Regions from separate parts of the Homo sapiens genome. Here region 2 is linked to region 1. The links come from fine-mapping of genetic effects on gene expression. Tissue or cell type: whole blood. Region 1 holds a variant in brackets; the other region holds the start of a gene. All regions are shown on one strand. Distances are between the middles of the regions.

The links. PIP is the estimated chance that this variant, and not a neighbour inherited with it, causes the effect.
Region 2: ITGA6 starts here. The variant in region 1 is fine-mapped to the expression of ITGA6 in whole blood (TOPMed, PIP 0.97).

Annotation. Positions count from the first base shown.
Region 1 is chr2:172,217,895-172,220,578 of GRCh38, forward strand. No RefSeq gene overlaps it. Among named protein-coding and RNA genes, the nearest start is that of DLX2-DT, 120 kb to the left of the region's middle. The variant G/A (reference allele first, on the strand shown) is at 1,129.
Region 2 is chr2:172,425,914-172,428,597 of GRCh38, forward strand. ITGA6 (integrin subunit alpha 6) reads left to right here and starts at 1,673. Exons shown (of 26, transcript NM_000210.4): 1 at 1,673-2,057. The coding sequence starts at 1,876. RefSeq lists a silencer at 1,621-1,700 and an enhancer at 2,485-2,684.

The DNA.
Region 1 (2,684 bases):
TGTGTGTGTACTTCTTTTTGTGCTGGTATAGAGTAGAATTACTTTGCCATAGGTTAATGAGCCTCATTTGTGCTAAGTGAAGACTGGGTGAATAATATTGTTGCAGGTGTTTGAACCTACAAAAGTGATGGAAAATTGGGGCATCACCTAGTTTGACACTATATGCACGTCAAACATGAATGACCTGTGCCATAGCTATCAATGTTTTTGCAAGTGTGATTTGGTTTCAGCAAATAGCATCATTTCCCATACCAATTTAATGTTTGTAGCTTGATTTCATTGATTTTGCAGTTTTGAATATGTTTAATTTGTAAGGTTATTTTGACTTTATTATTACTTGTATATCTAAGCCTAAAGACCTTACACTGAAATTTCTATGTGCATATATTTAAGTAATATATAATGAAAATAATTTAAATTAACTTTGGGGTCTATATAAATTTGTTTTTGTTTCTTTTTAAAGGAATCTCTTCTGATATCAGTAAGGATAGGATAACTTATATAGCAATATACAAACAAATTTCAGTTACTTAACTCAATAGCAGTTGAGGGAATTTTGCTAATTGAGGTCACTCAGTGACCCAGGCTGACTGAGGCTTCATTTTGACTTGAACATTCTTTTAAAAAATATTGCATTCAAATATAATCCACATATAGTCACAATATGCCACTATAAAGGGTATAATTTGGTGTTGCTTAGTATATTCACATAGGTTATACAATCTAATCTCTCACCACTGTCTAATTTGAGAACATTTTTGTCATCCTGAAAAGAAGCCCTGTGGCTACTAGCAGTTACATTTTCCCTATTCCCTAACCCCTAGCAACCACTAATTTGCTTTCTGTCTCTGTGGATTTACCTATTCTGGATATTTCACATAAATGAAACCATACAACACATGGCCTCTTATGTCTGGCTTCTTCCACCTAGAATAATGGTTTCAAGGCTCATCTATGTGTTGTTTTGTTTTTTGAGACAGAGTCTTGGTCTGTCACCCAAGCTGGAGTACAGTGGAGCGATCTCAGCTCACAGCAACATTTGCCTCCCAGGTTCAAGCGATTCTTCTGCCTCAGCCTCCCCAGTAGCTGGGATTACAGGCATGCGCCACCATGCCCAGCTTAATTTTC[G/A]TATTTTCAGTAAAGTCGAAGTTTCACCATGTTGGCCACGGTGGTCTCGAACTGAGCTCAGGTGATCCACCTGCCTTGGCCTCCCAGAGTGCTGGGATCACAGGCATGAGCCACTGCACCCAGCCTAAGGCTCATCTATGTTATAGCATGGATGAGGACTTCATTCCCTTTTTATTGCTAAATAATATTTCATCTTATTGATGCACCACATTTTGTTTATCCTCATTTATCAATTGATGGACATTTGGGTTGTTTCCACCTTTTGGCTATTGTGAATAATGCTGCTATGAAAATTCATGTGTACATTTTATGCAAACTTATGTTCTTAATTCTCTTGGGTATATACCTGGGGTGAAATTGCTGAGTCATAAGATAATTCTACTTTTGAGGAACTGCCAAACTGTTTTCTACGTGGCTGCACCATTTTACATCAGCAATGCATAAAGTCTCTAATTTCCCTACATCCTCTCCGATAGCTGTTGTTGTCCTTTTTGATTATAGCCATCTTAGTAAGTGTGGTTTTGATTTGCATTTCCCTAATGACTAATGATGTTAAACAACTTTTCATGTGCTTATTGGCCATTTATATATTTTCTTGGGATAAATCACCATTCAGATCCTCTTGTTTATTTTTTAATTGGGTTAACTTGTGAGATTTAAAAAAATATATATATATGTTCTGGATGGTAGATCCTTATCAGACATGATTTGAAAATTCTTTCTGTAGGCTGTCTTTTCACTTTGTTGATAGTGTCCTTTGATGCACAGAAGTTTTTAATTTTTATGAAGTCCAATGTATTTTTAATTTGGTTGCTTATGTTTTAGGTGTCATAGCTAAGAAACTTGTTAAGCATCTTTGATAAATGTTATGGCAAAATGTACACTGGCTTTGAAGCTTCCACCTGGTAGCTCCACGTATTACTGATGATCGCCTTCTGTTGGCCACAGAATGCCACATGGTTTCACCTAAAAGGGCAGAGAAGCACAAATCTTGACATGTTTCTGGAAATGGAGAAACTAGAAATATTTGGTAAATAGCACTAGTGACTGCCATGATTTAGCTCATGTTTTGGAAACATCAAAATTGGAATCACCTAAAAACAATGTATCTGGTTTATGTTAGAATCAAAAGATTTGTCTTCATTGAAATACTAGATCTAATGTCTTTGCCTTTTCTCAAGGGCCTTTAAGATAAATGGTCATATGAAAAGTTTTATATCTTCAGCAAGTTTGGCCCAAAGCATACTCTTTGTTATGTTACTTGGTGCCTCTTATGTAAGGAAATGCATGGCAATTCTTCTTAGAATTTAGCAACAGGAAGGTATTTATTTCTAGATAGACTTATGTGCTTCCCTTTTGTTTTAGAATGGGAAATATGCTTCTATTTTTACTTTTGTTGCTAGGAAACTCAGAGCTGAAATTAATGACCACCTTATATCTTCCCAGTATAGCTAACACTCTCTTCTCAAATATTAAGATCTTTTTTTCTTATACATTTAACTGTCTGTCATGCTTTTATTCTGCACTACCTCATTTTTTTTCAGTTAGTATATAAA
Region 2 (2,684 bases), 210 kb after region 1:
AAATCATCTACTGAATTTAAACCACTGCACCCCACTTTGGACTATAATTGACTGGAGTTACTGATTGGAAAGGAAGTGGTACACACCCCTAATATACTGACGGACTTACTCTGACAGCTGCTACCACCTGTGGGGACCCTTGATGATGTTCACGCAGCTTTTCTGAGTGGCACATGCTGTTCTCTTGAATACTCCTTGAGGTGAAGAAGAGGCCACCCCTACCCCTATGCACACACAGCTCCTGCTCTTTCCTGGGGCTGCACCCTGCTTGTATTTCCAATGCAGGGATGTCAGATTCCAAAGAGGGCTCCCCAAGGCATTCCAGAAGGCTTCAGGCCAGCACGTCCCAACCTTTTCATGCCATGGGACCCCTTTGGCAGGCTGCTGAAAACCATGGGGTTCTTCTCAGAATAAGGGTTTTAAATACATAAAAGAAACCACAAGAGGTTACAAAAAAAGCCAATAATATTGAAATGTAGCTAACAAAATGTTTTTAAAAATTTGTGCTAGAGCAATATATATGCTTCATTATTGACATATAATATCTGGCTGATTGTCTAATAACTACTGTTATTTGAGATACTTGCAACAACTGTGATGTGATGTAAAAACCTATGGTTTCTAGTGATTACTAAGTCATAAATACTTATCCTACTGCTACTGTAGTTTGTTGTCTACGTTCATAATGGCAAAACGTGCTAAATGTCAGAGGTTGGTGAAAATTAAGACGTAAATTTTTTCTCATCCAAGTTCACAGTACTCTTGAATTAATTACCTCTCCTCGGGTTAAGAACCCCTGCAGGATAAGGTTGCCCCTAGGGCCAACACCTCACTGGAGCCCCGCCTCATGTCCTGGAGGCAGGAGCCTTCATGCCACCTACACAGAACTCGGAGCTGTCTCTTGGCCCAGCAGTTCTCCCCACAACTAGTTCTGAAAGTCCGGGGCTAGGAAAGAACGGCATCGTCGCCTGAGCTCCTGGCGCCACTTTAAACAACCCATCCTTGACTTGCGTGACTTCTTCCACAAGCTCTCCTGGTCACCTGGGCAAAATCCTAGGTGATCTGGGGACAAGGCGGAACTTCGGTTTTCTGATCTGCAAAAAGAAACACCTACCTCATAGGACTGTTAGGATGAATTGAGGTAATGGCTGGGTTGTGTACATTATACAGCACTATCAAGGTGTGCGCTGTGATCATTTTTGAGGGTTGTTAGGTGTTTGAGGACCCAGAACAGTCTACACAGCTGTAGTCCCCAAGTGTTGGGCACGCCTTAAGCGCTCCATAAACACCTGTAGAAATGAATGAATGACGTATGCATCTGCACGTGGGCCCACATCTGCAAGAACAGGCTGCTCAGGCCATGAGGCCCGGTGCATCACCTGCACTTCTCTTTATAACGGGTAGTAAAGTCTCCCTCGCTCTGTGCTACTCGGCAACCACAATTCTGTCCACAGAGGGCGGCGCAGTGGGGCTGCTTCGCCGCGAGCTCGCCTCCGGGGCTCCCACGTCGTGGCTTCCGGGCAGGTACCGGGCAGCTGGAGACGCCAGAGCCGGCGGGTAAGGTGCGGGCGGTGCGCCGGGCCGCGGGCGCGCAAGGAGGGGCGAGAGGGTGGGGAGGGGCGGGGCCGGCGTCCTCGTCACTTGATAAAACGCCTGCGAGTCTCCAGAGAACAACGGGCTCATTCAGCGGTCGCGAGCTGCCCGCGAGGGGGAGCGGCCGGACGGAGAGCGCGACCCGTCCCGGGGGTGGGGCCGGGCGCAGCGGCGAGAGGAGGCGAAGGTGGCTGCGGTAGCAGCAGCGCGGCAGCCTCGGACCCAGCCCGGAGCGCAGGGCGGCCGCTGCAGGTCCCCGCTCCCCTCCCCGTGCGTCCGCCCATGGCCGCCGCCGGGCAGCTGTGCTTGCTCTACCTGTCGGCGGGGCTCCTGTCCCGGCTCGGCGCAGCCTTCAACTTGGACACTCGGGAGGACAACGTGATCCGGAAATATGGAGACCCCGGGAGCCTCTTCGGCTTCTCGCTGGCCATGCACTGGCAACTGCAGCCCGAGGACAAGCGGCTGTGAGTTCCCAGACCCTTCCCACCCCCACTGGGGCGCCGGCCTGCGCGCGAGTTGAGGCGAGGGCGCGCCCTGTTCCCGCCGGCCCCGGGGAGTAGTTGGCCCGTGGGTCGCGCCCGGGCCGGCCGAGGCGCACCCAGCGCCCAGCGCGCTCGGCTCCCCGCCCTGACCCGCCCCGCGCGGCGCCTCCCTCCATTCAGCTCGGGAAGGAGGAGAACCCGAGGGCTAGGCTGGGCCCCGGGAGAGTTTACTTTTTTTTCTGTTTTAAACAAAGTGCTTTCCGCCGGTTCTTCCCTCCGGGCGTGTTTGCTGGGACCCCGGCAGGTGGCACGCTTTGCTGAGCTTCACGTGTGTGTTTGGGGCTGGGGTGGCGTTCAGGGTCACCGCAGCGCTGCTGTGGGTTTGCAGGGAGCGTAGTTCCAGGATGGTCTAGGCCTTTCCCAAACTCACGGTGCACCCCGTCTCCCCCGCAGACTGGCGCGCCCCGCACAAGTTGGAAAGCCACTTTCCATGTGTCCTGCATGACTTTCTCAGCAAGGCGGGGGCGCTCCTTAGGAGATACTTTTACATGCCTTTGAAAAAAAAAAAAAAAAAGATGGGGGTGGGGGCGGGAATTAACCAAACACCTG